Linked DNA regions of Homo sapiens: region 1 is linked to region 2. The links come from fine-mapping of genetic effects on gene expression. A gene starts in region 2. The other region holds a variant in brackets. All regions are shown on one strand. Distances are from middle to middle.

The links. PIP is the estimated chance that this variant, and not a neighbour inherited with it, causes the effect. A credible set is the group of variants that fine-mapping cannot tell apart.
Region 1: its variant is the best candidate, but not a certain one, in a credible set for the expression of DYNC2LI1 in tibial nerve (GTEx, PIP 0.51).

Annotation. Positions count from the first base shown.
Region 1 is chr2:43,805,898-43,811,283 of GRCh38, forward strand. It overlaps DYNC2LI1 (dynein cytoplasmic 2 light intermediate chain 1), which reads left to right. Exons shown (of 13, transcript NM_016008.4): 13 at 3,808-4,113. The coding sequence ends at 3,870. It also overlaps a transcript of ABCG5 not described here. Among named protein-coding and RNA genes, the nearest start is that of ABCG5, 30 kb to the right of the region's middle. The variant G/C (reference allele first, on the strand shown) is at 2,467.
Region 2 is chr2:43,771,513-43,776,898 of GRCh38, forward strand. DYNC2LI1 (dynein cytoplasmic 2 light intermediate chain 1) reads left to right here and starts at 2,527. Exons shown (of 13, transcript NM_016008.4): 1 at 2,527-2,634; 2 at 5,270-5,386. The coding sequence starts at 2,627. It overlaps LOC105374571 (a long non-coding RNA gene), which reads left to right and starts at 2,641. Exons shown (of 2, transcript XR_940033.2): 1 at 2,641-3,034; 2 at 3,361-3,480. It also overlaps the pseudogene RN7SKP66. RefSeq lists an enhancer at 2,413-2,462.

The DNA.
Region 1 (5,386 bases), 34 kb after region 2:
TTTAAGACGAGTCTCACACTGTCGCCCAGGCTGGAGTGCAGTGGCATGACCTCGGCTCACTACAACCTCCGCCTCCCGGGTTCAAGCAATTCTCTGCTTCAGCCTCCTGAGTGGCTGGGATTACAGGTGCCTGCCACCACACCTGGCTAATTTTTTTTGCTTTTTTAGTAGAAACGGGGTTTCACCATCTTGGCCAGGCTGGTCTTGAACTCCTGACCTCGTGATCCATCCGCCTTGGCCTCCCAAAGTGCTGGGATTACAGGCATGAGCCAGTGCGCCTGGCCTAGATTTTTCTAAAAACAAACAAGCAAACTTAGATTTTAGTTTTATTTGATAAAATGAGACGTTGTACAGAATCTGTCCTTATATGAGTAAACTTATATATGCTAAGCACTAGATCGAAAGCCCCAGCAACTTCTCAGGTGGCAGTCACGTTGTTGCGAGGGTAACCTGAAAACAGCTGTCAGCTGGGAGTAGGAGCCAGGGTTTTTTTCTCAGTATTCACCTTCGGGGGCTGTTGGAGAAGTAAGCAAAACATTTTATGTAAACGGTCCAGAAGACTTTTGAAAAATATGCCATGAATATTTAGAGGTTTTATAGCTGTAGCAAAGTGAGAGGCATGTTGTAGAAACAGGAAAATGACCTTATGTAACCCTTATTATGTTTGCAGCCTGGCTATAAGGATTAGTTGGAAGTCATCCCTGATTAATATTTATCTAGGAGTCAATGATTAACTGTTGTTGTTGATAAGAATATCTGTTTATATTGTATAATGATCACTTTTATTAAGTTCATATACATCAGTATTATTAAAGGATTAGGGTATTTGTGAGCATCATGAGTTTTCACATTCAAATCTGTCTTCTCTAAATGACTTAAAACCATAAGAATTTTGTGTGGAAAAGGAAGGCAGCCCCACAGTACCCATATCACCCTTCATTCATCTCTTGTATCTCACTGCCAGCAGATCACCAATTCCTGTCATCTCTTGGTTCGAGATTTTTTTTTAACCTACCTGAAAAGTTATGCTGTCCTAAGTTTGCCTCTAAACCACTTTTATTTGTGTGGTTTTAGACGAATTGATTCCAGATTGCACACACAGGACCTTAACATAATTTTATGCTTTAGCTGTAAAGATACCCTAACAATTACCAGTGTTGTTGCTGTTATTTCATTGATAATCCGAATCTAAATTTTGACATTCTACTATATAAAATTTTTAATTTGAATATTATTTCATACTATTTCATGAGTAGTTGTGAGACCTTAAGTTGTTTCCAATTGTGTGCTGTGAAGTCAGTCCTCAAGGATCTGAGGATTGGTAGGAAGACCCCTTTCATCTTTCCTGCAGACTTAGGGTCTTTCGTGATTAGCCCTCTTTAATTATTTAAAGTTCTGTCTTTTGCCAGACTTCACATGGGCACCAGAAAATACTTAAGTAGTATTTTCTGTTTTTTAAAAGTCCTCTAGCTTTAGAGCATTCCCGATTTTAAGGGAATGCGAATGTGGAAAGCACTTGCTGAGCCCTTCTACCTCTTTTGTGTTTTTTTCTTTTTCTTTGATACTGTGTCTTGCTCTGGCATCCAGGCTGGAGTGCAATGGGGAGATCATGGCTCACTGCAACCTTGAACTCCAGGGCTCAAGGGATCCTCCCATCTCAGCCTCTCAAGTAGCTGGGACTACAGGCACACATCACCATGCCCGGGTAATTTTTTTGTTTTTTGTTGCCCAGGCTGGTCTTCAACTCCTCGCCTAAAGCAATCCTCCTGAGTTGGCCTCCCAAAGTGCTGGGATTACAGGCATGAGCCACTGTGCCCAGCTTCTTTTCTATTATTTTTGTTAAAGCAAAAAAAAAAAAAAAAAAAAAAAAAAAAAAGGTTACAGTTAACATTTATTTTTAAGGTCTTCTTGGCCAACCACAGTTATCTTCGGAAAACTTTACTTGCTATCCCTTTAAAACATCAATGCATTATTTTGAGGCCGTATCATTGTCATGTTGAAGATCTAGTGGACTTGGTGGTTTTTGTCTCATATTGGTTATTCCTTTTTCTCCCTCTGGCATGGCCTGTGTGATAGCCCTAGTTTTCTCACAGTCTGCTGTCTGCAAAAGGGAGATACTACCAGCAAAGAATCTCAAAACAACATTTTCACCTTTGTCATTGGTAAAAATAATTTAACTTCCAGTTAAAGACAAAGTTTGCAGTAAACAATTTGTTTATTCTTTATGAGTTAATCTTTAAAACCGCAAGTGGTAGATAACTGGTGAACTGAATTAGCTTTATTAGAAAAAAATAAAACAAGCTGTAAAGACTACATATGATTATTACCATGAAAATTCTTCCTAGAATCCAATGAGGAAGTTAAAGGAAAAAAAAAAACACACAAGGAAAAATTCTTCCTAAGTCTATATACCATTTTGAAACATTTAACATTTAAATTTTAGTAACTTAGGGTATAGGTATGAAA[G/C]GTACGCTCTGCAATTTTTCTGAAAATTAGAATGGATTTTCTTTTCATAGCAACTGTGAACTTCAGTTATGTTAGCCAAAGGGCATTGATTGCCTCATCTTGCAGAGTAACCACGTTTTATTTGAAGTAGTGACAACCTTTGTACAGTTATTTAGACATTGAACAACATGTAGGAGGCCAAGAGGCATCCCCTTAGATGGTCCCTTTTACATGTCAGTTGCCTTGTGCAGGATAGCCACCTCCACTAAAATTTATTTATGAATTGTAAAGGTAAGATATACTCCTTGTGAAAAAATTCAAGAGCTATAGATAGATGTATATAAAATAGAAAATGGAAGTATCCTGCCCTCTCCCTATCTGTGTGCTTTTTTCATGTGGCACACATTATGTTTTCATGTGGCCACTGTTATTTTTGCTGGCTGCCTTGGAAGCCACCTGTGAATGAACGCTAATTATTTAATCAGTCCTTACTGGGGGACATCAAAGTTGTTTCCAGTTGTGCTGAGACAGAGCAATGGGTTTCCTTCTTTTACATCCTTGTGCATTGCTCTATTGTTATGGATGATAAATTTCTAAAAGTAAAATCACTGGGACAAAGGATACACACACACACACACACACACACACACACACACACTTTTTTGTGACAGGATCTCACTCTGTCACCCAGGCTGGAGTGCAGTGGCGCAATCACAGTTTACTGCAGCCTTGGCCTCCCAGGTTCAAGCGATCCTCCCACCTCAGACTCCCAAGTAGCTGGGACCACAGCGCACACCACCATGCCTGGATAATTATTTTTCTCAGTTTTTGTAGAGACACGGTCTCCCTATGTTGCCCAGGCTGGTCTCAAATTCCTGGGCTCAAGCAATTCTCCTGCCCCAGCCTCCCAAAGTGCTGGGACTATAGGAATGAGCCACCGCACCCAGCCTGGGTATGTATTTTTTAAATATTTTGCTAACTTCAACCAAGTTTTTGATTAGAGCTGAACAGCAAACAATTAAAATAAGATCACTTTTGAATACTTGAAGGATGACAGATGTCTAGTTCATTAGTTGAAAGACAATTCATATGTATTATGTAGTTTATGTACATAATTTTGTCTGAAAGTTTAATAAATTCATCTCTGAGTGCTGCTTAGCCACACAGAAACTCTGAAGACAGTATTTCTAGAAAATAAGTCCTAAGCATAATCATTTACAAAATAATTGGCAAGAAATATTTAGAATGATAATGCTACTAAGGATTCATTGATATATCTAAAAAATGAGAAGGCAGTTTTAAGGTGCCTCCTTGAATTAGTAAAGTTGATTTTTCTTAAAGTGATACATATTTTTGTTTTAGGAACTGGAACAGTACAAAAGAAGTTCTTCCAAGTCTTGGAAACAAATCGAGCTTGATTCTTGAACCTATTTCAATTATTGTATATTTATTTCTTCTTTTCCAAATACAAATAAGATTATACTGTGAATTAACTATTGTGGCAATATGTGAAGAAAGTTAAACTGTATAATTTGTTAAAGGACAAGCTGGATTTCTTGGACTAGTGCATCTCCCTGTATATCTTGAAGCTTTTTAAAAGGAAAAATTATTGTAGAACCACGTGTAATTTTTTTTAAAATAAAAGAATCTTCTACTACCTACCTCTAACATGTTTAAGTGGTATATACTCAATTCAGCATGTATAAGTTTCTGCTTATATGTTTTTAGGAATATAAAAGTAAGAGTATTTGGTTACAGTTTTAAATGCAAGGTTAAGTGCCCACGTTAGACACATTCTTTCTAAAAGGCATTCTCAGCTGTAGCTGGGAGGAAACCGGAATTGGGTTCACAGATGTCAAAATTTTACTCTTAACAGTGAGGCGCAAGAAGCACCTGAAATAGGAGATGCACATTCCCAGGTCCCCACACCTAGAGTGTCGCCATCAGTGGTCTGGAATGGGGCATTTTTAATCAGCACCAATTTCACCCTGCTGTGAGACTGACACATTTATTTTAAATACCACTTTTTGAAGAACAGGCACATCTAAGGAGATATCCTATCAAGAAGCAGGACAAAACATCATGTGTTGCGGATAACCAGGATTATTTCCAAGGTGGGATAGCCTTTAAGAAGCCATTCCAATCTGTAGATGTGTGTACCTGCTAGCCAAGTTCATTTTGAGTAAGTATAATTGCTATGATTAAAAATGATTTATTCTATGTTCTTCCATGTCCACATACAAAATATATTGACTCCCAGCTTCAGATAAGCACATTTACTACCCCAAGGGAGTACTGTCTGAGCAGATAGCAAGCCATCTGCTTATTGCAATGAACTAGGACTTCATAAATTATTTGCAGTACGTATGGTTCTGACACCCTTGAGAACAGAATTTTCAGCATGTTTCCAAGGAACCTCAGTCTTTAGCACACGTTTCTTGCTGAGTGCTATGGAAAAAGAAATCCCTTTAAATTTACAGTGAACATTATGATCTCAGAAACATCACTGACTTGGTGGGAAGAAACAGCCTATTCCACAAGAGTAATAGGAATTGTTATTATGTAATTTGATTTTCTTACACATCACTGTCCATTTTTGACTTGAGACACAAACTGTCACATGTTGAAAGCCATTGTGTTTTTCTAAGGTGCTATCACTAACATTTAATAGCTTGAAGTCACGTGTGATGTCAGTTTTCCAAATGTTTCTGAGCTAGAATGAAATTCATCTGCATATGAATAGTAGAAAATGTTTCCACTTATGTTGTACACCCATATCTTTAGTAAGTTGAAATCAGTGATTTCAAAAGAGGTTCCTGTGGGACTCTCTTTGAACTACTTTAATAGATTATCATCTCCAGAATTGTCTATAACTGATGTGACATATATAATCTGTAAGACATTGTGTAACTATTACACCATAATCATCCATGTCAAAGAC
Region 2 (5,386 bases):
ATTCTGCAACCATCAAAGTTATGTTTATGATGCAGTTTTAAAATTTGATATGGTGCATTTTTAAAATTTGATATGGGGAAATACATGTTAAAATCAGGACATTAATTAACTTTACAATTAATCTCAACTTTGTAAGAAAAAAGATTAGAATGAAACATATCAAATGTATTTCCAAAATACCTAATAGTTACTACTTCTGGCTTATGCTTATTTTACCCTCTTAATTTTCTGTGCATACGTTTTTTCCCCTACAATTAGCTTATATAACTTTGAAAACAAGGGAAAAAATTTTAAAACTCTGCCTGTCACTTTCCTAGCTATTGTTAATAGCCTCCGCATGGTCTTCTAGATGCCAAACCACCCTTCACACAACTGCAAAAAATTATCTCACTGAAATTCATGTCTAATCATGGCACACTCCTATTTTTAAACCCTATTTGGTTTCTCATAACCAACACAGTAAAGTCTAGACTACAGCATCCTTCACAGTAGCCCCATCTACCTGCCCAGTTTGCTCTTCCACTGTAGCTCCACCAGGCACTTTATATGATCGCAACCCAAACTATTCAGTTTCCCAAATACATCCTGCACACGCCTTTACCCTTCTGCACTGTTGCTCATTCCATCCAGAAAGCAGCATAAAATTGTCTCCTTCTCCTTCCATTCTTACCTTAAGAACAATCTTCATCTACCCAGGAAAGTCACTTTCTTTGCCCAAGTATGAAGGCCTCAAGAGGAATGAGGGAAGAAAGGGGAACTCACCTGCTCAGTCAGATCAACTGAATCAACCCTGAATCAATGCTGCTGATCAGGGCCCAGCCGGATCACCTTCACTTTCCTGGTTACCAAGCTCCCTCCTTCAAACACCTCTCCCCGTTATTCAAACAAGTGTACTTTTGAAGTACTCGTACTGAGTATTGTGCCCAGTACATAGCAAGCACTTGGCAAAAATGTTAGCTGTCGTTATTGCTATCAATATCAACAGGCCTTCCTAACTAGCATGCAAAAGTATTCTGAAGTTCTAGAACCCAAATCATTACAATTCATTACAATCTGTCCCATATCAGTTTGTGAGCTTAAAGTCTGGCTTAGCACCAGGCTATAGCTGTTGATTCAATGACAGATGTATAAGCCTCCTTTGAAAAATCATCCTTTCTTCGGTGAGCTCTACTCCCATTAATTCCCTTCCTATGTGCAGCTTAGTGTTCTTTACGTCTCCAAAATATACCTAGGTGTTGGGAGGATTTTGTTCCCAATGACTTTATTTGAAATAAACACCCTTTTATCAACCATCAGCCTTGTTTCCAGGAATGTGTTCCTTGTGTTTCTTTGTTCGAAGTTGCTGACCAGCAGCTTATCACACAATAATAACAAGCATTAAGCAGTTATAATGTGTCAGACACCCACGTAAGTTATGTTTTACCTACATTTATCTCATTTAAGATTCACAATCTTTCCCGCTTTACAGGATCAGAAATTCAGTGATTTACCCGATGTGGCAATGTGACAACTTAGCCAGCGTGGCCAAGTCAGAACTTGAACCTAGGTCCATCTCACGCCAAAGCCCATGTACTTGAACATCGCACCATAGAAATCAAGCCGAATAGTAGAGGACTGGAGGGAGGGTATCTCCTTCAAATATTCAGGGCATCTTAGGCTAGAAAGCCTGAGTCTACTCAGCATTCAATACAGACCAAATACTATCAGTGCCATGGTTTCACCATCTCCTTCAGGCATAATTGGTCACTTGCCCTCATGCAATTTTTGTACCTCTATACAATAGTTTAGATCACTCACTTCCTTAGGTGCTTATAATTAGCTGAGTGTGTGTCTTTCTTAAGGGCAGCGATCTTTTCTTACTCATCTCTTTATTCCTTATTCTGTGTAGCATAGGGCCTTGCATATTCAATGATTGTTATTTATTTCAATGCTCGTTATTTATTTGGACACTCCTGCAGATCTATAAAGAGACCACAAAGTTCCAAAAGAAAATAATCTACATTCACAAAGTAAATGAAGTATGTAGGAGATGCACTTGCTTCATTAATTTATTAATAAATACACAATGTGCTATTGAATAAAACTTGAAACAACTAAACATCTAGAAAGTTGGAAAATATTAAAATTACGTGCCTTATTTTAAATTTTAAAGTCCGAATATTCCTTGCTTCTAGTAAATTAGCAGAAAACAGCTCAAGAGATTGTTACACCCTCTATTCCTAAATCATGGCGATTGGGAAGAAAAAAGTGAAAGATGAGAGAGAGAGAGAGCAGAGACCCTTGGCATATAGTTGACACCCAGTAAAAAAATTTTAAAATAAAAGAAAATTGCTTTTAGATCCCAGGTTTGTAACCCCTTATCATCTCGTTCTAGGAGGTAACAAGGAGTTACTAACTTGGGATCTAAAAGCAATCCTAAGGCTTGAGGCCGAGAATGAGATGTAAAAGGACTCCTGAAAACTACATTTCCCATGATGCCCGTCTCCCCACGCAACCGCGGCCGCGACGTCGCTCCCATGGCAACCCAGAAGGCCTCACTCCCAGACTCCTTGCGGAGCTCGCCGCCTGATTCTAGGCTGGTCACTACTCCGAGCCTGTGACGTTTGCGGCAGCCAGGCCGTCGACGATGCCCAGGTATTCCCTGAACCCGGCTTGCGTGGGAAAGGCTACTGAGAGTATTCCTGGAGAGAGGAAGCCCAGGCGGGACCAGCTGTTGGAAGATTGTGGGGGTGGCTACTTGCCACCAGGATATGCAGGGTCGGGGACCTAGGAATCAGCCTTGAGCATAAAGATTCTGCCGCAAACAGGAAAGAAAAGAAAGTTCCCTAGGTAGAAAAGTGAGAGATTTGGAAAGATCAGCAACTCCACCCATTCAATGATTGAATAAAAGTTTCTTGCAGGCCAGAGACTACTTCCGGAGCAGGACATTCGGCGATGAGCTAGACCACAAAGCCTCCTCTCCCCAGGGGCCTCCCCTCCTGGTGCGGGGGTTCGCAGTAATAAGCGAGGGGAAACTTGGAAGGCACTGTGGAAAGTATAACATCACTTTTAAGGGGGGAAACGGGAGAGGGTTTGTAAACTATATTCTAGCTGTTCAATTCTATGATATTCATTTTAATTACCTGTTCACAAGATATTCCTAAACCTTTTCTCAACAATTTATGCTTAAGCACGTCGGGGAGAGGGGTCAGGGAGTGCATCACAGAGCAGGATAAATCTTTTTCTCTCCTTGGGATAGTGTGGAGAATTGTCAGCTTTCCATCAAGGGATAATTGGTTAGTTATAAAGCTATGGTTATACTTCCCGATTTCCGCAGGTGTCGTGGCTGACTGCAGCACCTCCGTCTTTCCTCTCTGCTAGGTATTTGGAAAGCAGATCCTCATATTTTGAAAGAATGTTGTGTAAATGAAGAGCAAACAGCCCGAAACTGAGTTCTGAAGGCTCACCTGTGAAATAAATGCATGAATTTTAGTGCAAACATTTAAGGACTCCTGTTTTGACCCTTTTTCTTATTCCTGGTTCTTGAATAGTATAATTACAAGCCCTCAATAATTTTTGTAATTGTATAGGCCATGCCCTAAACTACATATATATTTTAACAATTATGACAATCCTATAAAGCTGATACTCTTTTTTATTGGCTTTTTAGAGATAGAGAAACAATTGAGCCTGGGGAATAGCACAGAGGATTGCATATATTAGGTGCTCAATAAATATTTGTTTAATTAATAAAGGAATGAAGGATTTAAAGAGGTTAGGTAGTTTTCCCAAGTTCACATACATAGGAAGTAGCAGAATCAGGCTAGGACCTATCAGGTCTTGCCCATGGTTAGTTTTTAGTTTAATATTCCATTTTCACTTAGGCTTTAATTAATATATATATGATTTTATCGTGTAAAGTTATATATCTGTGTAAAGAAATCAATGAAAGGATTGTTTTCAAAATGTTTGTGGTTTTAGGGTTTTTTTTTCTTTCTTTCTTTATGGTTTTTTTTTGGCGGGGGGAGACAAGGTCTTGCTGTGTCACCCAGGCTGGAGTGCAGTGATGTCAACATGCTTACTGCAGCCTCGACCTCCAGGGCTCAGGCAATCCTCCTGCCTCAGCCTCCCTAGTAGCTGGGACCACGAGTGCATGTCACCACACCCAGCTAATTTCTTTTCTTTTTCTTTTTTTATTTTCTTTTTTTTTTTTTTAGACAGAGTCTCGCTCTGTTGCCCAGGCTGGAGTGCAGTGGCACGATCTTGGCTCAATACAACATCCACCTCCTGAGTTCAGGTGATTCTCATGCCTCAGCCTCCTGAGTAGCTGGAGTTACAGACACCCGCCACCACACCTGGCCAATTTTTTTTTTTTTTTTTTTTTTTTTTTTTTAGTAGAGATGGGGTTTTACCATGTTGGCCAGGCTGGTCTTGAACTCCTGACCTCAAGTGATCCACCCACCTTGGCCTCCTAAAGTGCTGGGATTACAGGTGTGAACCACCACTCCCAGCCTCAGCCAATTTTTTTTGTTTGTTTTCTTTTCTTCTTCTTCTTTTTTTATACTTTAAGTTCTAGGATACATGTGCACAACGTGCAGGTTTGTTACATATGTATACATGTGCCATGTTGGTTTGCTGCACCCATTAATTCATCATTTACATTAGGTATTTCTCCTAATGCTATCCCTCCCCCATGCTAATTTATTAGTAGTAGTAGTAGTAGTAGCAGTAGTAGAGATGGGATCTTCCTGTATTGCCTAGGCTGATCTCAAGTGATCCTCCTGCCTCAGCCTCCCATATACTTTTATATTAAACAAAATTTTTTTTTACCTAAAAACATAATCTAAAACACAAAAAAGAAATGTTTCAGGGAGGAAAGATTATTTGATACACTGGTTTTGTACTTTTCCCATCTTCCTAGGTGACTTAAATGTTTGTGGTTTTCAAGTTGTACATTCCCAAAGTCATTGTACCTCCATATGTGTCTGAGAAGCTGACATACACAGCTATGAACCGTAGGGGAAGACCCAAATGTGACAGCCTCAAATCCTGGCAATAAAGGCTCTGCTTATCAATTTCAGTATTCTTCAGAGAACTAGTTCAAAGCAACAAAAGAAAAATAAAATCATAGAATGACTAATCCTCAGATGTTTTACCAGATTATTGTTCCTCAGAAAATAATGTTCATTTGTTTCATAAATTATACTGAAATAAAATTTCTCTGAGCTTGAAATAAATATTTGAAAGAATTCTTTTTCCCTCAATTTTGTTTTTTCTGCCTCTCATGTAGTGAAACTCTCTGGGAAATTGCAAAAGCTGAAGTGGAAAAAAGGGGAATTAATGGAAGTGAAGGTGATGGAGCTGAAATTGCAGAAAAATTTGTTTTCTTCATTGGCAGTAAAAATGG